Linked DNA regions of Homo sapiens. The protein of the gene in region 1 purifies or fractionates together with the protein of each later gene. This does not show direct contact. Each region holds a gene or a part of one and is shown in the gene's direction. Other genes may lie near its edges. The genes, in order: CEP57, CDK5RAP2, DHX15, PRKAR2B, DSC1, HRNR and ZNF385A.

Evidence for each region.
Region 2: the proteins of CEP57 (region 1) and CDK5RAP2 purify together in Homo sapiens (co-immunoprecipitation; 2 studies listed by BioGRID and IntAct, with this or other methods). This does not show direct contact.
Region 3: the proteins of CEP57 (region 1) and DHX15 purify together in Homo sapiens (affinity purification with mass spectrometry, with the first as the bait; one large-scale study listed by BioGRID). This does not show direct contact.
Region 4: the proteins of CEP57 (region 1) and PRKAR2B purify together in Homo sapiens (affinity purification with mass spectrometry; one large-scale study listed by BioGRID and IntAct). This does not show direct contact.
Region 5: the proteins of CEP57 (region 1) and DSC1 purify together in Homo sapiens (affinity purification with mass spectrometry, with the first as the bait; one large-scale study listed by BioGRID). This does not show direct contact.
Region 6: the proteins of CEP57 (region 1) and HRNR purify together in Homo sapiens (affinity purification with mass spectrometry, with the first as the bait; one large-scale study listed by BioGRID). This does not show direct contact.
Region 7: the proteins of CEP57 (region 1) and ZNF385A purify together in Homo sapiens (affinity purification with mass spectrometry, with the first as the bait; one large-scale study listed by BioGRID). This does not show direct contact.

What each region holds. Positions count from the first base shown.
Region 1 is NC_000011.10:95,793,498-95,796,997, forward strand, and holds part of CEP57 (centrosomal protein of 57 kDa), read left to right. Parts: intron 1-723; exon of another isoform or gene 724-1,036; intron 1,037-2,018; exon of another isoform or gene 2,019-2,044; coding exon of another isoform or gene 2,045-2,062; intron 2,063-3,500. UniProt on the Homo sapiens protein: Centrosomal protein which may be required for microtubule attachment to centrosomes. May act by forming ring-like structures around microtubules. Mediates nuclear translocation and mitogenic activity of the internalized growth factor FGF2, but that of FGF1.
Region 2 is NC_000009.12:120,573,668-120,577,167, reverse strand, and holds part of CDK5RAP2 (CDK5 regulatory subunit-associated protein 2), read left to right. Parts: intron 1-3,500. UniProt on the Homo sapiens protein: Potential regulator of CDK5 activity via its interaction with CDK5R1. Negative regulator of centriole disengagement (licensing) which maintains centriole engagement and cohesion. Involved in regulation of mitotic spindle orientation.
Region 3 is NC_000004.12:24,526,975-24,529,764, reverse strand, and holds the end of DHX15 (ATP-dependent RNA helicase DHX15), read left to right. Parts: coding exon 1-164; intron 165-1,723; coding exon 1,724-1,841; 3' UTR 1,842-2,290; downstream 2,291-2,790.
Region 4 is NC_000007.14:107,051,205-107,054,704, forward strand, and holds part of PRKAR2B (cAMP-dependent protein kinase type II-beta regulatory subunit), read left to right. Parts: intron 1-3,500. UniProt on the Homo sapiens protein: Regulatory subunit of the cAMP-dependent protein kinases involved in cAMP signaling in cells. Type II regulatory chains mediate membrane association by binding to anchoring proteins, including the MAP2 kinase.
Region 5 is NC_000018.10:31,135,357-31,138,856, reverse strand, and holds part of DSC1 (desmocollin-1 isoform Dsc1a preproprotein), read left to right. Parts: intron 1-3,500. UniProt on the Homo sapiens protein: A component of desmosome cell-cell junctions which are required for positive regulation of cellular adhesion.
Region 6 is NC_000001.11:152,214,194-152,217,693, reverse strand, and holds part of HRNR (hornerin), read left to right. Parts: coding exon 1-3,500. UniProt on the Homo sapiens protein: Component of the epidermal cornified cell envelopes.
Region 7 is NC_000012.12:54,374,734-54,378,233, reverse strand, and holds part of ZNF385A (zinc finger protein 385A), read left to right. Parts: intron 1-2,279; coding exon 2,280-2,390; intron 2,391-3,500. UniProt on the Homo sapiens protein: RNA-binding protein that affects the localization and the translation of a subset of mRNA. May play a role in adipogenesis through binding to the 3'-UTR of CEBPA mRNA and regulation of its translation.

The sequences.
Region 1 (3,500 bases):
TAAATATAAGATTTACTTTTTGAGAATAATAAAATGAATACCTTCATGTTCCTCTGTGTCTTCTTTCTCCTTCCCACACCCACCCACTACCACGTATTTTAAGATTATAATGTATGGTATTTATATAGGACTACCTGGCAAGGCATAATCCTTAAAGACCCTTTTCATGCATTAACTCATTTAATCCTCACAATAACCTTCTGAGATTGGCATTAATATTTCCTTTTTCAAATGAGCAAAATGAGGCACAGAGAGGTTGAGTCAAAGTTCTCTAGCTAGTAAATGACAGTATCTTAATGGGCTTTGGATTTAATGGGTTTTGCTGTTCATTTGTTTGCCAGATATTAGAAACAATCTTGTATTCATTGTTATATGCTGTACATGGCAAATGTTTCTCTAGAGTGCAGTTCTCGAAGTATGGTCTCACAACCCTTGGAGATCTCCAAGACCCTCTCAGAGTCTACAAGATCCTTCTGTAATGACCACGTTTGTGGTAGACTAGATCTTTAATAAGTCAAACAAAATAACATATCCAACAGAGCGAATGCAGAACTAGATAAGAGAATCCAGCATTCTTTTTTTAAAGCAAACATTAAAGAGATCTGCAGAAATGTAAAATAGTGCCATTCTTTTCACTAGATCTTTTAGAGTGTAAAGGGGTCCTGAGAGAAAAAGTTTGCAAGGGGCAACTCTAGGGCAGTGATTTTTCTTTTTTTTTTCCAGACCAGAGGCTGGGCTCTGGATTACAGCTCAGTAGTGGGTCATGGAATATGTACTGTGACTCAACCCGTATCATTTTCAAGAAAGAAGAGAGAGAAAATCGTTCAGCAAATATAACTGAATGAATTATCTGGTTCACAGAGTATGTGCGTCTTCAGCTTTACTCGGTCATACTAAATTGTTTTACCAAGTGATTATACCAACAACCCTCTTTATTTTATGTCCTCTTAAATGGATGGTATCGTCCCACTTGTAAATTTTTGCTGTGTGTGTGAAATGGTATCCTATTTTCTGATTTGTGCACCTCTTATCATTGGTGAGTATGCACCCTGTTTTTTTCAAACCTTTACTAGTGTGTGTGTGTGTGTTCTTCTGTGAAATACCTGTTCATGTCCTTTGCCTGTTTTTGTCTGTTAAGACTGTTCCAGAGACATCTTGGCTGGTCTTTGATATCTTTCGATTAATAGTTGTTGTTACTTTTAATGTAAAATTTGTTAGTCTTTTTATAATTAGTGATTTCTGTTTAAGAAATTCTTCCTTTCTCCAAGGCCTTGGTTGTATTCTTCTATATTTTTTTCCTACTTATTTTAAAGTTGAAGCCTTTTATGTCCTTAATTTACTTGAAATTAATTTGTATGCTGTGAGATAGGGATCCAGTGTAACGGTTTTACTTAAAATACACAATTGTCCCCACACTACTTGTTGAAAATTCATCCTATCCCCAATGGTTTGCAATATGTTCATTTCCATATGTGTATGGGTGTGTTACCTGGCTCTTTGTCCCTTTGTTGTATTTGTCTCTCCTACTTAGATACCCACTTGGAGGTGGGGGGGTCATTTACCTCCTTGTTACTCAAGAGAAATATTAGCTATTGTTGGTCCTTTGCTTTTCTTCAGTAGAAATTCTGGAACCTGCTGTTGGAATTTTGGTTTAGATTTTATTGAATTTCTAGCTTAATTTGGGTGTAACTGATACGTTTAGGATATTGACCCTTCTGTCTGAATGTTATGTTACTCCATTTATTTAGAACTTTAACATTTTTCAGTACTTGTATAATTTCATGTCTTGTATATTGTTCAGTTTATTTCTAGTTTTTAATTGTGTGATATATATTTTCATAAGTTGCATTTTCTAATATATAAAATTACTGACTCTTACATATCTATTTTACTCAGCAATCTTCCAGACTTAATTCTCATAATTGAGGATTTTTTGTTTTGTTCTATTTAGTCATGATACGAAATTGGGATTCTTCCTTTTCAATCTTAATAGCTGTTATTCTTTTTTTTTTTCTTAGTGTGCAGACTAGGGAAATGAAGTACAATGTTGACCAGAATTGATGTAGGTATCTTTGTCTTACTCCTGATTTTAAAAGGAATATTTCAAGTTTTCCACCATTAAGTATGTTTGCCATCTTTTCTTGTAAAACTTCATATTATCATAAGGAAGTAAGTTTTTTAAAAAATAATGGCTGGATGTTGAATTTTATTGAATGCTTTTCTACATTTGTTGACGATCGTATTGATATTTAGTTTGGAACTGTTGCATTGATTGCACTGCTCAGAGCTGTACATCATGTTCCTCCACCATTGGACCTTGACTTCTCCAATTTTATTTCCTCAACATGTGTACACAAACTCTTTTTTTCAGCTAAACTGATGTATTCATTAACCTGGAAATAATTGCCTTTTATATCCATTTCTAGCTTGCCTATCAGAATACATGTCAATCTACAAGACCCAGTATCGATTTCAGCACTAATAAAGACCTTCCTTTACCATACTGTTTTGAAGCAGTGTTCTGTTGAATGCATCTGAATTTAATTTGCACTTAGTCTCTATTACATCCAATTTACCAGTTCCCACCTACTGTTTTGTATTTGAGTTTTATCTAGGTAATATCTTGCAGCTGTGTTGCATGTGCCACTTATAAAGAAAGCAAGTAATATGCATTTTTAAATTATGCTTCATACTTCACACAGTGTCATAAAAAGATGTTCAATAAATATTTGAATTATGTGTTCCTAAATGAGATATTTGCCCTAAGAACTAAAGGCTGCAGGAAAAGCTAGTGATCAGGTTAAACATTTTGCCTTTAATCCTGAAAGTTTCTCCTACAATCATATTTTGGTTGGAATAATTTTTACTGAATGCTTAGGGTCATGGAGAGATTAGTGGATTGGGAGTTAGAATTGGGCTCCTTTCTACGCAGCCTTCCTATGATATTTGTGCTATTTGTTAAATATAAAGAAGCCCAAAAGCTTTTGGTGATCTCTTAAAGGGTTGTAGTGATTTTGTTGAAAAGGATAATCTTTTATAAGTAATGTGCAGTTTCCTGTTTTGCGGAGGAAATGTATAGTTAATATTCAACAGATTTATTGAACATAATAAAACTCCTTTATTAGAACTTAATTTCTCCAGCAAAAATTCTACACCAACTGGGTGTACTACAATTATTTTAATTCTGACACTGCCCAGATGTTGCTCAGACCCCCATACATTAAGGGGCTCCGTTTCACAAGACTGCCTGCCCCCAAGTCAGTCAGAGTTCGCAGAGCATCTGCATTTCTGCTCAGCTGACTACAAATTATGGGATTCCTGCAGCTTTCCAAGAACGGCTCACAGTACTCAGGAAAGACTGTTCTTAAGCAATTTCAGTTTTATAAAGGACACAACTCAGAAACAGCCAAATGGAGGAGACATAGGGCAAGGTGTGAAAGGGCTTCTGTATCCTCTGGTGCAGCACCTTCCCAGCATATCAGTATGTTCAACAATCTAGA
Region 2 (3,500 bases), on another chromosome or scaffold:
CTGGTCTTGAACTCCTGGCCTCAAGTGTTGTGCCTGCCTCGGCCTCCCAGAGTGCTGGGATTATAGGTATGTGCCATTGCGCCCAGCCTGTCTCTATGATTTTGACTACTCTAAGTGTCGCGTATAAGTAGAATCATACACTATTTGTCCTTCTGTGACTGGTTTATTTAACTTAGCATTATGTCCTCAAGGTTCATGCGTGTTGTAGTATGTGTCAGAATTTCTTTCCTTTTTAAGGCTTTTGTTTTTAATTTTTTTTAGAGACAGTCTTGCTCTGTTACCCATGCTGGTCTTAAATTCCTGGGCTCAAGTGATCCTCCTGCTTCTGCCTTGCTAAGAGCTGGGATTACAGACACAAGCCACTGTGCCTGCCCTTCACTGATATTTTTATTGTCCTTTTGATTATAGCCATCCTTTGGGTGTGACATGGTAGGTATCTCATTGTGGTCTTTTTTTTTTTGTCGTTGAGACAGAGTCTCACTCCCTTGCCCAGGCTGGAGTGCAGTGGCGCAATTTCGGCTCACCGCAACCTCTGCCTCGTGGGTTCAAGCGGTTCTGGTGCCTCAGCCTCCCAAGTAGCTGGGACTACAGGCACGTGCCACCATGCTCGGCTAATTTTTATATTTTTAGTAGAGACGGGGTTTCACCATGTTGGCCAGGCTGGTGTCGAACTCTTGACCTCAGGTGATCTGCCCGCCTTGGCCTCCCAAAGTGCTGGGTTACAGGAGTGAGCCACCCCGCCTGGCCCTCATTGTGGTATTGATTACATGTTAATGGCTACTGATGTGTTGAGCATCTTTCCATGTGCCTTTTAGCCATTTGTTCACTTTCTTTGGAGAAATGTGTATTCAAATCCATCGTCCATTTAAAAAACGTGAATATATTTTGACCCAGCAATTCCACTTCTTGTCATCTATTCTAGAGAAATCCTCATACTTGTGCATATGGGACCTTATAAGGACATTCATATGACATTGCATGTAAAAGAAAAACTTGGAAACAAATTGAATTATCATCAGTAGGGGATTGGGTAAATACACATCCTTTCAAAAGTATCTTTCAGACTGTGGCCCGTTGGTAGCTCATGAAATTCAATTTAGTAGGTTGCAACCAGGATTTAGAAAAATAGAACAGAATAGAAAACATTTCAAGGATGAAGGGTAATAATATTTCTTCTGTGGCTCATGGTCAGTAAGGTTTGAAGAACACTGCTGTAGAAAGCTTTGTAGGAGTTGAAAACTTTGAGGCATATCTATTTGTACTGTCATGAAAACATCATGAGGGCATATTAAGTAGAAGAAGGATGTTGTAGCATGATGTATACTGTTTGATTGCATGTGTTTTTAAGCAGCAAAATTGAAACTATCTATGTAAAAACACATAAAAAGTTCTGGAAGTTATAGGTCTTTTTGAAAACAGTGATTACCTCCTAGGCGGGTTCTAGATGGGAGCGAGGAGGAGCCAAGGAGAACTTTAGGCTTATCTGTATTTTTTTAAATTTATGTATTTTTCTCTAATTAAGAATAAAATAGAATGAAAAAGGGGTTGTTAAAAGACAAAAGTGAGTTTGTTTGTGTAATCGTTGTCAGAATGTGATATCTGGTCTCATCCATGACTCTCATGAAACAATTTGTCAAGGAGACATAAGACCCCTTGGGTCTTATGGTTTGAGTGGACAATTGTTGCTGGCATATGTAGGCATAGAAAGAGGTCAGTCCTTTTCGGTAGCAATAGAGCAAGATAGGAGGATGAGGTGGTGGAGCTCAGGTGAAGGTCCATTCAGTCACTCAAAAATTATCCACAAACAGTTGCTACAGCTGGGCGCGGTGGCTCACGCCTGTAATCCTAGCACTTTGGGAGGCTGAGGCGGTCAGGTCACCTGAGCTCAGGAGTTCAAGACCAGCCTGGCCAACGTGGTGAATCTCCATCTCTACTAAAAGTACAAAAAATTAGCCGGGCGTGGTGGTGCATGCCTGTAATCCTAGCTACTTGGGAGGCTGAGGCACGAGAATCGCTTGAATATGGAAGGTGGAGGTTGCAATGAGCTGAGATCACGCCACTGCACTCCAGCCTGGGCGATAGAGTGAGAGTCTCCAAAAAACCAAAACAAAACAAAACAGTCGTTATGATGGCTGTGCCCTGTGCTGAGTGATGGAAATTTTATGCCTCAGTCCATTCGGCCCTTAACCACCACCACACCCCTGCCACCCCCAACCTCCGGGAAGGCGTCAGGGGTACCAGGGTGGTGTAGGTTCACAGCAGGGGGTTTAAAGTCAGGCTGGCTTGGAGTTTCCAGCCTATTAACTTTTTGGTCTTTGTTTCCTCATTAAAAAAAAAAAAAAAAAAGGCAACATTAAAAAGTACCACCAGCCGCAGAAAGACTATAGTGAGGATTAAACCTGATTTTAGTTTCAAACATTCAGTTTAGAAAATGGACTTTAATCCTGTGGTGAGGATGAAAGGGAAGGCTGCCTGTCCTGTGCTGAGTGTGGTGCTTGTGCAGCATGGGTGCCCCATACAAGGGCAGGTTTCTTAGATTGTGCTTTATTTTGCACGTGAGGAAACTGGTACTCCACCATGTGTCACATTTATATAGGAGCTTTGGGCAGTCCACACACAGGCTAGCAAGTGGAAAAGACACTGGGATCCTGGATTTTGGGCTTGGCTTTGCCACTAACTTTTGTGATTTTGAGTAAATAAGTTCCTAACCCATTTCTGGGTTTCAGTCTTCTCATCTGTGGAATAAGATCATATCTGAGCCCTTTTGTTTTGCTTACATTGTCATTTCTCGTGAGTATCCCTGAGGCCCCAGCCTTAATTATAAGGCTACAAGTGAATGATTAGAATGGAAAGAGGGAGCTGCTTGTGGCTGGAGGTGTAGTTGGAACTGACTGGAGGGTGCAGATGACAGATTCATAGCATTTTAAAAGTGGGTAGGTAAAGCCCGAGTGGAAATTTGGCAGGATCCAAGCAAAAATTTCTGCATTACATAGTGGTTTTGTCTAAGAGTTGGGATGTCAGATGTCATTTTTCAAACTTCAGTGTTTGCCTGTAGGAAGCTTGTCTAAGACCAGAATCTTTGGCTTTGTTTGCTAGGTACTTTTCAGCTGTGATTGATCTTGGCTTGAGTTATTCATGGGCAGTTTTAGCCAGTGGGAGTTAATGTAATGGCTCTGGTACCCGGAGAGAACCCCAGATTGAGAATGCAGGACCAGACCTTAGGCTGAGCTTGGCCAATAACCTGGTGTATGTGACCTTGGGCTTCTGGACCACCATCTGCAAAAGGTGATGGTTGAACTTGATTTTAGTTTTTAAAATTCAGTTTAGAAAATTGACTTTGTCCTTTTAGTGATGTTTATTGGAGGAAATTGAGAATTATATAACATTAAAAAGGAAGAAAACCTCTCATTTCCCTACTAATGATGATTTTTAATATTTCAGTATATTTCCTTTGTCTTGTTATATATCTGTAGCCCACCTATTTCCAAAATGGACTTGAG
Region 3 (2,790 bases), on another chromosome or scaffold:
CATTTAGAACGAACAGGGCATTACTTAACTGTGAAAGATAACCAGGTGGTTCAGTTGCATCCCTCTACTGTTCTTGACCACAAACCTGAATGGGTGCTTTATAATGAGTTTGTTCTAACAACAAAGAATTACATCCGGACATGTACAGATATCAAGCCAGAATGGTAAGTACACCTTTTGTTCTAACAGTTTTTTGTTAGTACTTTGCTCAAAATGGAACCTGACTGTTGCTAGAGTCATGGCCTTGCATTCACTCATTGAGAATTTATATTTCAGTGTGTAGGTATGAGGGAATTGACTGGATGGTGTGATTAATCTTTCACACCCTTCCTTTGTTAAGTGGACAGTGGGATTGTTGATATTTATGGGCAGGATTTGAAGCCAAATGTGAAGTTACATTTGAATAGCATGAAAAGTTTCTTCAGGGGCTGGGCATGGTGGCTCACACCTGTAATCCCAGGACTCTGGGAGGCCAGGATGGGAGGATCACTTGAAGCCAGGGGTTCAAGACCAGCCTGTGCAATATAGCCAGAATCCATCTCTACTAAAAGATATATAGGTGTGTACAAAAATTAGCTGGGCATGGTGGTGCTGCACGTCTATAGTCCCAGCTACTGGGGAAGCTGGGCAGGAGGATTGCTTGAGCCCAGGAGTTTGAGGTTGCAGTGAGCTATGATCATGCCACTGTACTCCAGCCTGGGTGACAGTGAGACCCTGTCTCTCAGACATACTTTTAAAAAAGGGTTTTTTTTTAATTTTTTTAATTTTTAGAGTTTCTTTGGAGCCATTCTCTTGCTGTTGTGATTCTCAAGTCAGTACTGTTTCTTGCTTGCAGAAATCTGTTTTTTTTTGTTTTGTTTTGTTTTTTAACATTTTTTTTGTCCCATTACAATTAGCCCTCAACTATTTATTATTTATATATTGGTTTTTAGGAACTGTGCAGGCATAAAAATGATAGCTCTTTGTGTTTTAACATACTAGCTTCTACAAAATGTAGAGTAAGAACGGATTGTTTTATTTTAAGCAAAATAACCCTCACCTTCATGGTTTTTTGTTTTATTTATGCCAGAATCTATTCTATAACCTATGACAGGAAATGTCAGCCAAGAGTAGTGGGACTGAAGGCACATATTCTAGGTGCTGTCACCGCTTTATATTGTGCAGCTGCTTTCTTATACGGATTTGGGACTTTTGACACTTAAATTGTGTAGGACATTACCATTTTATCTTAAACGCTTTGTTGAGAAAAAAATTATATAGCTAAACTTTATAAAAGATTTCAGTCAAGTGTATTTTGGGGGTATAGAGTTACAGTTATTAAAACATTGAAAATGAAAAGATCCAATCATTTGAATACCACGATGTTTCCTACACAGAACCTGTTATATATTACTATATCCTTGGAGTGGCAAATTAATAGTGTGCCAGAGTAAAGAAATCAGTGACTTTATCTGTTATCTTTACATTAATGTATCTTGAGGGGTTTGTTATTAAGTTTATGGTAAGTCCAACATCAGAAAATTCACATCTTACTAAATAAAATACTTAACACATTTCTAAAAGTGCTATTTGTAAGGATTAGTTATTTGTATTTTTCTGAGACTTGAATTCATAGATTTGCCTTGGTTCATCAGTATATTAATGAATAATGCCTATCCTATTAACAACTCCAGTACTTCAATTAAATGTTAATTTGGAAATTTTTCTGCCCACTTCTAAACAGGTTGGTGAAAATTGCCCCTCAATATTATGACATGAGCAATTTCCCACAGTGTGAAGCAAAGAGACAGTTGGACCGCATCATTGCCAAACTTCAATCCAAGGAATATTCACAGTACTGAATTCAGTGCTTAGAACTGAAGTTATTGAGAGGACAGCTTTAAAAGATGAATGAACTCAAAAGTTCGAGTTGTGCTCTTCACGTTGGTTCGATAATGGCCTTTATTTGAAAGCTTTTTAATTTTTCTTTACAGTAAATATTCCATTCTGATTTCATAAATTAAACATTTATGCCTCCCTTTTGTGTTGACACTGTAGCTCATACTGGAAAAGTCGATCAATGTTTTGCAGTTTATTGAAAGTAGTTCTATATATAACAATGTTATAAGCATTTCTTTAGAAATGGTTGAAAATGCTTCTAAAATGTGATTATCGACCATGGTATGCATGATCGTTGTAATTGTTGACATTCCTTTTAGAAGTTGTGAAATGTTACAACTTGTGCTTATGTAGACACAATCTTCTGTCTCAGTACAGAGGCACTGACTTCAATAAAGTCTATTTATACTAATTTTGGCCAAAGCCCTTTGGTATCTTTGTTCTAGTCTCTAAGTATAGTTGTTTTTCAAGTGTGGAGCTTTTTTATTATTATAATTATACTGTTACTACATATTTAGTATCTTTCTACCAGGAGTACTCCTTAGGAAAAGTAGCTGTTAAAGCAGTATTTTTAAGAGCATGGCTTAGCGCTTTGTTAGGTTAATCAGGATGTGATCGATCTAAAAGGGGTAAAATGTGTGTAGTGATCATTTGAAACTGGACCCCAAAAGAGAGAATAATGAAAGGAGAGCTCTCTACTTGTCTTTCTTAGAGTTCCTTTCATAAGGCTCATAATTTATTAACTACATTTTTGTCAGATGTTTTTATTATACTTCTAGCTTCTCAAACACGTTTATTAGTATTAGGTAAGAGGAAAGCATATTTTAGATCTCAGTTTAACAAAATTCTTAGTGATGGAAGTTTTATGCAGTATACAAAATAATTTGTATAGTGTGTTAAAATGTACATTTG
Region 4 (3,500 bases), on another chromosome or scaffold:
GTCTTCCATCAAGTTGATTGATAAGGTTTAAAAGGATGGGCTAAAGAAAAGTACTTTTGTCTTCAGAATTTCCAGGTTTTTTTGTTCTTTGATTCTTTTTCAATGAAGTGAAATCTAATATTAGACTATATTTTCCTATCACTTGCTTAAGAAGAGACAATGGAAAAGAAACAAGAATGCAGTGATTTTTCTGAATTGAATGAATTGTTACTGTGTTCTTGATCCTGTTCTTGTCCTTCCTGTCTTATCTATATCATCTAGTTGTGGTTGGGACAGTCACAAAATCCTACTCTAAAAACCTCACTATGATGCTTATCATTATTTTATGAGAGCGAATTTTGTGCTTCACAAATTCAAAATGACTCAGACGGTTTCATTATGTAATTTTATGGAAAGAATTTGAGCTAAAATTTTCAGGTCATGGCTTACATGACAACAAAACAATCAAATAAGAAAATCAGAACTATAAACAGTTGGTGTAACATTTATAAATGTTTCAGCAATAGGCTCTGCCATGTGTAGCTTAATATGTTTGGAAACTAAAAAAAAAAGTCTTTCCAGTTGCTGCTGTTTAAAAATGTTTCTTAATTAAAAAAAAGACAAAAGGTCAAAATGTAAACACATGTTCCACATAAAAGTGAAGCCAAGAAGATATACTGTATACAGTTATTCCTGTATCTGTTTGACTAAGGATGACATTGTTTAATTTACATTAGCTGTTCCAAGACAAAATAGTCCATGGGAGTGATGTTGAGGGGAATTTGGGGGGTAAAAAGAGAAGGAAAAAAGCCGTTTGTTCCATTTGTTCTAATATATTTCAGTTACACCCAAAGAGCATCTTTTTCAAAGGTCATGTTGAATTAAAACATGATTCGGCTGTTTCGTTCTCATTATTATAGAAAACTAATGTCTTTTAAATGGTGTCCTTTTAGGCCGGGCACGGTGGCTCATGTCTATAATTCCCAGCACTCTGGGAGGCCGATGCGGGCGGATCACCTGAGGTCAGGAATAGGACACCAGCCTGGCCAACATGGTGAAACCCCATCTCTACTAAAAATACAAAAATTAGCTGGGCGTGGTGGCGGGCGCCTTAATCCCAGCTGCTTGGGAGGCTGAAGCAGGAGAATCGCTTGAACCCTGGAGACGGAGGTTGCAGTGAGCCGAGATTGCGCCACTGCACTCCAGCTTGGGCAACAGAGGTATACTCTGTCTCAAAAAAATAAATAAATGGTGTCCTTTTTATTTAATACTAGTTATTATTAACATTTTTGACTACTGATGTATCAGATGTGGAACAGTGCTTTACACATTGTCATCTGAACAGATGCTTTACACATATGTGATTTAGTCTTCCCCAGAGTAATTGGTGGAATCAAGGTTTGAACCTGGTAATCTGACTTCAGGGTCTTCCTCTTCAACCACGGTTTATACACTTCATTTCAGTAATTCTTTTAGCAGTAACGTGGTTGAAAATAAGCACATATCAAAAAATAAGCTACCTACTTTTCCCTCTAAAAGTTTGCAGGCTAGCCCTGCATTGATCTCTCCCTTTTACAATTTGCATTCTCTGTCTATTCAACCCAAATTAGCATTTCATGTACCTTAGAAACTCAGTACATTTGTTTATTTTATTTTATTTTGTTTTTGACAGAGTCTTGCTCTGTTGCCCAGGCTGGAGTGCAGTGGTGCCATCTTGGCTCACTGCAGCCTCTGCCTCTGGGTTCAAGTGATTCTCCTGCCTCAGCTTCCTGAGTAGCTGGGATTACAGGTGTGTGCCACCATGTCTGCCTAATTTTTGTATTTTTGGTAGAGACAAGGTTTTTCCATGTTGGCAAGGCTGGTCTGGAACTCCTGGCCTCAAGTGATCCCACCTGCCTCAGCCTCCCAAAATACTGGGATTATAGGCAAGAGCCACCACACCCAGCCTACATTTATTTATTTTAGAAATAATCACCTCATGTACTGAGCTGCTTAATTCTCTAAATTTATTTTATTATATACCTTTATTAGCAAAATATATTTGAGTGTACACCCCAATATATGTTGATAAATTTTATACATGTGACAATATATTGACTTATATGTATGATAAAGCTTCCTACAATATAAATTTTGAAAGGAGAAAGTAAAAAGCAATTCTAAGCAAGTTGTAATTTTCTCCTACATCCCAACATATAGCCTTATACACTGTTTTGGCATACATGAACCCCGTTTTGGAGACTACAGCTGTAAACAATACCACTTAAATTGATACTCTAGTAATATATAAAGTAGCCATGATCAATTTTGGTTCCCTGATTCAAGCTTCTAGATTATAAAGAGTGTGTGTGTGTGTGTGTGTGTGTGTGTGTGTGTGTGTGTGTGTCTTTTTTAAAAGACAGTCACTCGGTAAGTTAATTGACTCAACAGAAGTTGGCAGAATACAGAGGAAAATTCTATCTTATAAAAAGGAAGTAAAACTACGTTACCTGAAGGGGAAAATCCAGGCTTTTTCTTTTAAAACCTGTTTTCCTGTATATACCTTGAATTCCAATTGTATAGTGGTAATGTTTTTGGTGCAACATTTGTGGATGGGACAAAGAGAATCGTATTATAGTTTTCTGGTTAGGAATCAGTAAATTATGGAAATACCAGTCAGAATTAGAAGAAAGTCTAAAGTTTAGAATAGTTGAAAAGAAATGCAATTTCATAGAGTATTTCAGGTTATTTTGTTAGGAGAGAGATCGTTCACTATTTGCTTTCTTGTAACTTTTGAAAAATGTTTAGCATGTGCTTGGATTACCTATTAAATAAGTGTAAAAATACATGAAAGAAAGGCAATTCTTTTGTAAATATGCATTAAGTAGTAAATAAAACACAGTAGGCCGTGTGTGGTGGCTCACAGCCTGTAATCCCAGCACTTTGGGAGGCCGAGGCGGGCGAATCATGAGGTCAGGAAATCGAGACCATCCTGACTAACTTGGTGAAACCCCGTCTCTACTAAAAATACACACAAAAAAATTAGCCTGGCGTGGTGGCAGTTGCCTGTAGTCCCAGCTACTCGGGAGGCTGAGGCAGGAGAATGGCGTGAACCCGAGAGGCAGAGCTTGCAGTGAGCTGAGATCGCAGCACTGCTTGACAGAGTGAGACTCCATCTCAAAACAAAACAAAACAACAAAACAAACAAAAACCACGGTATATAGCGGCACATGACATGATTCTAAATTGATATAGCCAAATATTCTTGTCTTAAGTCATTCTCTTGGTCCTGAATTCTCACTCCCCTCTCCCTGTCTTTCTGCTAAATCTCACTCTTTTCCCAAAGGTTTAGTTTATATTTTACCCTACCAAATATTTTTGCAAGTTTCCCTCCTTGACGTTAATACTATCAATATGGTAGGATGAATATGGCCTCCATCAGTCAACTTTGCAGATGTCAAGGGTCCTCAGTCTAGGTAGGCAAGAATGTGCAGGAATATACCCTCTCTTTCTAAGTCTTTCCTGTATGTGTTGTGCTTTGC
Region 5 (3,500 bases), on another chromosome or scaffold:
GTTTGACTACCTGCCTAATCCAAGAAGGTTTCCACTCTTTTTACATGCATATGCTGGATGTTCAAAACAAACTAGCTGATACAATGCTATGGGTTTTTTTTTCCTGTGTCTATTGCATTTCTTTAGAAGGAATGGTTGACTGTATTAATAAATACATATGAAATTCCATGGTAATTAATATAAGTTGGTAGTAGTGAAAATGTTCATGCTTATTTATTTGTCCCTTTGTTTTTTTTTTTAATAACAAAATGCAAACAATGTGTTCTCAGATATTATACCCCTACTTTTTTCTATGTTGGCAAAGAAGACTTTATGTTTACTCATTTATTCCCCAACTGGTGGTTTGTCTATTAAGTTCTAAGTATTAGACAAGCTGACATGGAAATTAAGAATGTTAAGATAAGGCCAAATTCTTACACGATATCAACTATAGAATTATTATAGTTTCACAAGAGATTCTATGATGTGAGAACTTTCCTCAAAAAGAATGTATGAATATTATCAGAAGTGGCGATCAGTTAAGACCTGCTCAGATTAAGGATGAAAGAGAAGAGATTACAGAAATGCAGAGGCCTAATTTTTTAAAAATAAAATGCTATCTGGAGAGGAGAAAATTATGGAGAACAAAGTATTTAAAAAGTAACTTTGTTTTTTGGTGCTAAAAGACAAAGTCTGTAAGCACAGTGAATGTAGTGTAGAAAATAAAAAGCAAACTTTAACAAATCTACATTCCAGGGCCGTAGATAACCTGGGTGTGTTTAATAAAAAAGTAAAGATAAGGATGTTACACATTTTAGTGAAAAACCATATAGTGATATGATGGATTTTGTTTCTTTGAACTTTAATCCACACACACACACACACACACACACACACACACACACACACACATTTTGCTCTGATGCTCATGATTATTCCTGGATGATGATCTAGGTATTCTACCTGTCTTAGAATCCAACTTTCTTTCTTGTGTCAATCCTCTGTCAGTCTGGCTGATGTCCCTGCTGTCAGTCGAGAAAGCATTGTTTTACATACCTTCCACCTAGAGTAGCATTGCTCCTCCTGTCTGAAATTCAGGCCCCTTAACTTCTTCAAATAAATGGCAATGACAAGGTTTGTGATTGTTTCCATTAGTCTGGATTCAGTTCTTCTCTAAATACCTTTTGAACTGGGGATAACAATTATCATATATGGTGTGGCTTCTGTAGAAAAGGCTGCTTTCATTGTTTCTCATGTATATTCTGTTCTCCTAACAAGCTTAATTATGAGTTCAATTTTGTATAAAGACCCTTTTTCTTTGTAAATCGTCCCTTTCCAAGTATCTGGCAGAAAATGTGGTATACATATGCACAGTGCAGGTGCTGATATTTGTCATTCCTTTGTTGTTTGAGAGTCCTATGAATCTCCACGTTATACATTTCACTGCAAAAAGCTTTACAATTCTAGGGACATAATTAGCACTTGGGAAAACTGATTTTAATGTAGAAAATTGAGATTAAACATTTATTAAGTGCTTCTTTATTTTTCCCTTCTGTAAGAAGGATTTTCTTAAGAGAACAAATATTTAAGGGTTGTCATGTACAAGTGGCAAACATTTTGCATGTATAGTCCAAAAAGAACATGAACAAATTACAGGAAATCATTAGGAGGCATATTGTAGCTTAATAATTAAAAATTTAAATCTTTTAACAATTAATTTTAAAATTTATAGAGTAGGCTGATTTATAATACAGTGATTCTAGTTACTGAAACATTTGAGTAGCAATAAAAAACGACTGCTTTCCAGAATTGCTGTTGAAGTATTATGAAGATTTTTAGTTAACCCAAGATGTACTTTCTAGCTCTGTGATTGGTGTTTCTTACTCATTTATACTTGATGTTTGCTTATGTGCTTAATTTAAAGTAAATTTTAGAAGTAAATAAACACACCAATGACTTCATCATGCTCAGCTATTATCAGTAATTACTTATTTTTGGCTGTTTACCTCTTCCCAGGGGTAAAATAAAAACTTACCATCAACCTCTTGTAATTTTTGATATCTTCTAAGACAAGCTTGTCCAACCTGTGGCCTGCAGGCAGCATGCAGCCCAGCGTGGCTTTGAATGTGGCCCAACAAAAATTCATAAACTTTCTTGAAACATTATAAGATTTGTTTGCAACATATATTTTTTAGCTCATCAGCTATCATTGGTGTTAGTGTATTTTATGTGTGGCCCAAGACAATTCTTCTGTTTTCAGTGTGGCCCAGGGAAGCCAAAAGATTGGACACCCCTGTTCTAAGACCTTCTCAGCTTTGTCTTTGATTGCCTTCCATTTAAATCATTTCAAGCATCTTTCATCTGTTTTTATCAACATGCTTAAAGCAGAGACTGTAATAGAAAATAGTAAGTTATGGGATAAATGTTGGTTGAATATGTGATTAAATAAATCTTGATTTGCGTTACTATAATTACCACTTTTTTTGGATTTTTAAAGTGTGTTTTCTTACGATTTTTCTATAAAGAGAAAGGCTTTCTGCTTAAATTTTAAAAGGTGAAATTATAGTATATATATCAACTCATGTGTAGTGTATGCAACTAAATTTTTTACTTTATAAGGCCTCTTTTTCATATTATTCATTTCTTAGTTTGCTGATTTTAAAGTTATTACTTATATTCAACTTTATTTGCTATTTTCTGGCAGTCTCAAAGTATTTATATGCTATTGCAAATTTCTTCAACAAATAGCTATATCTCTCTTTTATTTCTGGATATTTTTAAATTTGTTCAGGTAGTTTTAAAATAGGCATAAATAGTAGTTACTTTATACAAACAATTAGTTTAAAAGTCACTGAATAAATTAATTTTGTAGTTATTCAACAGAAAAAATTCTTTTGAAATACACTACATGATATGACTTAGGGTTATTTCAAATTAAAAAGAAAAATAAATTATATTTGCATGGGAGTTATAGTAGTCTTTATGATAAATTCAACATACATGTTTCAAAATGTGGACCAGTATTTAAAGCAAAAACATGAAAAATTACATCAATTACCTTTCTGTTTATTTCAATTTTGATATCTTATCATTTATTGTAGTTTATTATCCTTTTACAAATGGTGGGATTTGACATGTTTCTGAACTTCATTATCTCTTAAACACAAATAATGGGCACTATTTTAACTAAAAATACTATGTGTGAAGTCTTAGGCCAATAATAGTGGCAATCAACAGATGAGTACGAGACAGTTCCTGTTGTCAAGAACATATGAATTGCATTAGGGTAGAGATGAAAACTTATTTTTCTGGCTTATTCAATTAAATGTTTTCAAGTATAAAAATAGGAACTGCATTATGTTCAATGTGTCAGTATTAAGTTATAGTTAGCTGGGAAATACTGGGCAAATCACTAGGCTCTCAAGGTGAATACAACTTACTATGCTACTTTTGCAGTTCAGTGTGTGAGCCAAAGTATTAGCAAAGAGTTCTGAGAAAGCACTGGAATATGGCTACCATTG
Region 6 (3,500 bases), on another chromosome or scaffold:
GCATGGTTCTACATCAGGACAGTCATCAACCTTTGACCAGGAGGGATCTAGCACAGGCCAGTCTTCCAGCTATGGCCACCGTGGCTCTGGCTCCAGTCAGTCTTCTGGCTATGGCCGACATGGGGCTGGATCTGGCCAGTCTCCTAGTCGCGGCCGACATGGGTCCGGTTCTGGGCACTCTTCCAGCTACGGCCAACATGGGTCTGGCTCCGGTTGGTCTTCCAGCAGTGGCCGACATGGGTCTGGCTCAGGTCAGTCTTCTGGATTTGGTCACCACGAGTCTAGCTCATGGCAGTCCTCTGGTTGCACTCAGCATGGATCTGGCTCAGGTCACTCCTCCAGCTACGAACAACACGGCTCTAGGTCAGGACAGTCATCTAGGGGTGAACGACACGGATCTAGCTCAGGTTCATCTTCCAGCTATGGTCAGCATGGGTCTGGCTCCCGTCAGTCTTTGGGCCACGGCCAACATGGGTCTGGATCTGGCCAGTCTCCTAGCCCTAGCCGTGGCCGACATGGGTCTGGTTCTGGGCAGTCTTCCAGCTACAGCCCATATGGGTCTGGCTCAGGGTGGTCTTCCAGCCGTGGCCCATATGAGTCTGGCTCCAGTCACTCTTCTGGCTTAGGTCACCGAGAGTCTCGCTCAGGACAGTCCTCTGGCTACGGTCAACATGGATCTAGCTCAGGTCATTCCTCTACCCATGGGCAACATGGTTCTACATCAGGACAGTCATCGAGCTGTGGCCAACATGGAGCTAGCTCAGGTCAGTCTTCCAGCCACGGTCAGCATGGCTCTGGCTCAAGTCAGTCTTCTGGCTATGGCCGACAGGGCTCTGGATCTGGCCAGTCTCCAGGCCACGGCCAGCGTGGGTCTGGGTCAAGGCAGTCTCCCAGCTACGGCCGACATGGGTCTGGCTCCGGTCGGTCTTCCAGCAGTGGCCAACATGGGTCTGGCTTAGGCGAGTCTTCTGGCTTTGGTCACCACGAGTCTAGCTCAGGGCAGTCCTCTAGTTACAGTCAGCATGGGTCTGGCTCAGGTCACTCCTCTGGCTACGGACAACACGGCTCTAGATCAGGACAGTCATCTAGGGGTGAACGACACGGATCTAGCTCACGTTCGTCTTCCCGCTATGGTCAGCATGGGTCTGGCTCCCGTCAGTCTTCGGGCCACGGCCGACAAGGGTCTGGATCTGGCCAGTCCCCTAGCCGCGGCCGACATGGGTCCGGTTTGGGGCACTCCTCCAGCCACGGCCAACATGGGTCTGGCTCAGGTCGTTCTTCCAGCCGTGGCCCATATGAGTCTCGCTCGGGTCACTCTTCTGTCTTTGGTCAACATGAGTCTGGCTCAGGACATTCCTCTGCTTACAGTCAGCATGGTAGTGGCTCAGGGCACTTCTGTAGCCAAGGACAGCATGGTTCTACATCAGGACAGTCATCAACCTTTGACCAGGAGGGATCTAGCACAGGTCAGTCTTCCAGCCACGGTCAGCATGGCTCTGGCTCAAGTCAGTCTTCTAGCTATGGCCAACAGGGCTCTGGATCTGGCCAGTCTCCTAGTCGCGGCCGACATGGGTCCGGTTCCGGGCACTCTTCCAGCTACGGCCAACATGGGTCTGGCTCCGGTTGGTCTTCCAGCAGTGGCCGACATGGGTCTGGCTCAGGTCAGTCTTCTGGATTTGGTCACCATGAGTCTAGCTCATGGCAGTCCTCTGGTTACACTCAGCATGGATCTGGCTCAGGTCACTCCTCCAGCTACGAACAACACGGCTCTAGGTCAGGACAGTCATCTAGGGGTGAACAACACGGATCTAGCTCAGGTTCATCTTCCAGCTATGGTCAGCATGGGTCTGGCTCCCGTCAGTCTTTGGGCCACGGCCAACATGGGTCTGGATCTGGCCAGTCTCCTAGCCCTAGCCGTGGCCGACATGGGTCTGGTTCTGGGCAGTCTTCCAGCTACGGCCCATATGGGTCTGGCTCAGGGTGGTCTTCCAGCCGTGGCCCATATGAGTCTGGCTCCGGTCACTCTTCTGGCTTAGGTCACCGAGAGTCTCGCTCAGGACAGTCCTCTGGCTACGGTCAACATGGATCTAGCTCAGGTCATTCCTCTACCCATGGGCAACATGGTTCTGCATCAGGACAGTCATCGAGCTGTGGCCAACATGGAGCTAGCTCAGGTCAGTCTTCCAGCCACGGTCAGCATGGCTCTGGCTCAAGTCAGTCTTCTGGCTATGGCCGACAGGGCTCTGGATCTGGCCAGTCTCCAGGCCACGGCCAGCGTGGGTCTGGGTCAAGGCAGTCTCCCAGCTATGGCCGACATGGGTCTGGCTCCGGTCGGTCTTCCAGCAGTGGCCAACATGGGCCTGGCTTAGGCGAGTCTTCTGGCTTTGGTCACCACGAGTCTAGCTCAGGGCAGTCCTCTAGTTACAGTCAGCATGGGTCTGGCTCAGGTCACTCCTCTGGCTACGGACAACACGGCTCTAGATCAGGACAGTCATCTAGGGGTGAACGACACGGATCTAGCTCAGGTTCGTCTTCCCGCTATGGTCAGCATGGGTCTGGCTCCCGTCAGTCTTCGGGCCACGGCCGACAAGGGTCTGGATCTGGCCATTCCCCTAGCCGCGGCCGACATGGGTCCGGTTCGGGGCACTCCTCCAGCCACGGCCAACATGGGTCTGGCTCAGGTCGTTCTTCCAGCCGTGGCCCATATGAGTCTCGCTCGGGTCACTCTTCTGTCTTTGGTCAACATGAGTCTGGCTCAGGACATTCCTCTGCTTACAGTCAGCATGGTAGTGGCTCAGGGCACTTCTGTAGCCAAGGACAGCATGGTTCTACATCAGGACAGTCATCAACCTTTGACCAGGAGGGATCTAGCACAGGTCAGTCTTCCAGCCACGGTCAGCATGGCTCTGGCTCAAGTCAGTCTTCTAGCTATGGCCAACAGGGCTCTGGATCTGGCCAGTCTCCTAGTCGCGGCCGACATGGGTCCGGTTCCGGGCACTCTTCCAGCTACGGCCAACATGGGTCTGGCTCCGGTTGGTCTTCCAGCAGTGGCCGACATGGGTCTGGCTCAGGTCAGTCTTCTGGATTTGGTCACCACGAGTCTAGCTCATGGCAGTCCTCTGGTTACACTCAGCATGGATCTGGCTCAGGTCACTCCTCCAGCTACGAACAACACGGCTCTAGGTCAGGACAGTCATCTAGGGGTGAACGACACGGATCTAGCTCAGGTTCATCTTCCAGCTATGGTCAGCATGGGTCTGGCTCCCGTCAGTCTTTGGGCCACGGCCAACATGGGTCTGGATCTGGCCAGTCTCCTAGCCCTAGCCGTGGCCGACATGGGTCTGGTTCTGGGCAGTCTTCCAGCTACAGCCCATATGGGTCTGGCTCAGGGTGGTCTTCCAGCCGTGGCCCATATGAGTCTGGCTCCGGTCACTCTTCTGGCTTAGGTCACCGAGAGTCTCGCTCAGGACAGTCCTCTGGCTACGGTCAACATGGATCTA
Region 7 (3,500 bases), on another chromosome or scaffold:
ACATTCCACCTGCACAGGGATTGGGCCCAGGAGTCCTCACTTTCATCCTGGTGTCTCCTTAGTTCCTGGAGGAGGGTGGGAAGCACCCACCTGACTCCACTGCTGCCCTCTTCCCCACTCCCCACTCCCACTCCTAGTTGGTGTTTATGGACTTAAACCAGGGGAGGGGGTTGTGCAAAAGCTAAGGTTCTCACCCTGGAGGAAGGACCCAGGTAGGGCAGGAACCATTCTCATGGTATGGATGTTGGGGTGGCCAGTCCACAAGTCATCCTCGGGGTACTGTGTCCTCAGCCCCTCTGGAGAGCAGGCTGGCATGATGGGGCAGAGCATAGGCAGAACTAGGAGACTCTGCTTCCCCCTTCCATCCCACTCCTCTCTCCCTACTGTTTTCATCCAACTTGGGTTTCCTGGCCCAACTTGAGTTTCTGTTTGAATTCCCATTCCCCACCCAGCATGTGAGGAAGCCCAGGGCTGAGGAGAACTCTGGAACAGAGTTGGGGGTCTCTAAATAGGAAGGATTAAGGCCTGGAGACTGGGAACTGAGAGCAGCAGTCTGTCTCCCCTTTCTGATTAAAGACTGTCTCCAACTTGGTCTGTCTTTCTTTCTGCCAAACACATCATACATTTACACAGATAAACACACAGCTGAAGATTACACCACCTGACCATTCATGGTGCCATCAAAGCCCCCGACGCAGAAATGTTGATATATAAATGATGTACGCACAGTACATGACACTTATTCACACTCCACCCATGCACAGATTGATCACAGCCTGCCTAACACACACAGACACACCCGTTCTCCTGTTTGGCTTTTCCCTGGATGTGACTGGGGCTTCTGGGAAGCTGAGGTAAAAAAAAGTGAGCCCTTAGAGAGGCTTCTTTCCAACCAAGAGTAGGCCAAGAGATTGACACTTGTCAGTCAGACCAGTTGTCTGAACCCAGTCCTGGTCCCTGCCTTCAGCACTACCCAAATGGAGAGTGGATGAGGCCACCATCTATTTCACAGGGATACGAAAGCCCATTTCCTGACATTAACCCCACCCAGCCAGTGAAACTACTGGTGAGAGGAAAGGAGAGTCCAGAGGACAGGGCTTTCCAGACTCTTACTACTTTCCCCCACTTCTTGTTCTCTCACCAGTGTCTCATTGGAAACCCTAAAGACCTGTCACAGAGATGGGCTCGGCTGAGGAGATAAGGACCCCAAGTCCCCAGCAACTATTTTTCACTTGATCCCTCCACCCAGAAGATAAGGTTTTGTCCTAATTCAGTCCCATTCTTATGAGAGAGCCCAGCCATCCCCCAATCTTCAGTCTCAGCTGCATTCCAGGCTTTCCTCTCCCTAGCTGCCTAGAGGCCAAAAGGGAGGAGAACTGTTGAGGGAGGCAGTTTTCACACCTCTGAGCCCCTGGTTTTCATCCCCTGATAGCAGAAAGCCTCAGAGAAACTCCCGTCCTCTCCCTTACTCATGTGAACTCTTGGCAGGAGACTGCAAAGACGTCTGCTGACCCAGGGTGGGGACAGGGATGGTTCCTAATCCCGCCCAGCCCCACAGCTCTGCCCTAGAAACCCTGATGATCAGGGAGAAAAGGTTCAGAAGATCCCTGGGCTGCCTCGGGCCAGCCCAGCTGCTTAGGTCCCCCCATTTAGTCCCCATGATTCACTAGAGCTCCTACTCTCTCCTGAGTTCTTTTACTCCCTCTAGAAGTTGCTGCCCTTAAGAGGTCCAGAGAGTGTGTGTGTTAGGGCGACCAGGGATCCAGAGTTGGGAGGCTGGGAACATCTGTCTCCTGGGACTAGAGGCTGGGCTTGGTGATAGTCTTACCCCAGAGTGGAGGCCCAAAGGGCTCAGAGGCTTCAGCTGAAGGCCCTAGGATCTAGGGTGCTTTGGGACTTCATGTCAGAGGCCTCTGGTGGATTGGCTTCACTGTAGGAGATAAGTCAAGGTGACACAGTTGTATGTTCATGGTATGATGGACCAAGGCAGGAATCCAGGTTCAGATACCAGATCTGCTATTAACTCATGGTGTGACGTTGGGCAAACCACTTCTATGTCCTGTAAAATGGGAGCATTGGGCCAGTTATCGATCAGGTCCCTTTCAGTGCTATGAAGATTGGGCTAAGAGAGAATCAGAAGACTGAGGCTCAGATCCCTCAGGCATATTAAGGGATAGAAGGGGTCTGGGGACCTTGGTTCAACACAGATATCTGTGTTGGGGGAATGCTGGACATGAGTTGCGCTAGGGTTCCCGGCTCACCCCAGCCTGCCTCCACAGATGGACCCTGTGCAGAAGGCTGTGCTCTCCCACACTTTTGGGGGACCCTTGCTCAAGACCAAGCGGCCCGTCATTTCCTGTAATATCTGTCAAATCCGCTTCAATTCTCAGGTAAGAAGCCAAGCTGCTCATCTACCCAGTGGGTGGGGCAGGGGCAGCAGGGGAACTTGAGGGAGGGCAGAGGCTGGGTGAGAACACTTACTCTGGTTGAGGGGCAGGGATTAAGGGGATATTAGGCAAAGAGCAGGGAATGGGGATACCGCAGGAGGGGCAGGGTCTTGTGGAAGGCACTGGAGAGACACAAGAAGTTGCTGTGTATTTTGACATGAAGTAGATCAGTCCTCTAAAGTTGACCTCTCCCTCCCTTGAGACTTGGGCATCCGTGGTTCAGAGCTTCTTGGAACATAGGTGGCCATCAGTGTCTGAGCAGGAGTGTGGCCTCTGGCCCACTGGTTCTTGGGTATGGGGCAGAGTTAGGTCATTGGCTCCCCCACAGAGCCTCTGTCCTCTTTGGCCTCTGCTAAACTCCTCCTTGGCCCACCCACTTCGCTCTAACTTTCTGGCTTCCTTCTCTCTCCACCCCATTTCTACTCTCCTCCCTCCAAATCACACACAAGGCCTGGCCCCTACTCTTATCCCATGGGGCTTTCCCCTGGGGAGAAGCTACCCCAAACCCAAAACCCAGATGTTCAGCCTCCCAGATTTCCTCCCTCTGAGGCTCCACTGGGACTCTGTGGAGTGTGTGTGGCTCTAGAGGGGACTTTGTGGGGTGCAGGCCCTGAGAGCTTTTGGAGAAAAACAGCAGAGCCTCGTTCTGCTGAGTAGGGGAAAATAAAAGCATGTTCTGTTTCTCTACCCAGTACAGAGACACACACACACACACACACTCCATACTACTGGGCTCTGCACACTGCTACTTTACCCCTGGGCTGTCAATCTTCTTTTCCTGCCTATCCACACCTTTTATTTCTGCCCTTGTCTGGGTGACCCTGTGCCTCCAGGATGGTACATTCTTAGCAGGGGTATACATGGGAGTGGAGCAGGGTGGGGAAGGGAAGACAGGACTAACCCAGCATCAGGCCTCTGCTTTAGCTTGGACCCCAGGCATCCTGTCTATCAACCCTGGCTCCACTCACTGGTGGATGGTGGAAGACTAGAGGGGCAGGGAGCCAACAGCAGATAGCCCTTCCCACTTTTTGCCCTACCCTCCCCTCCCCCATC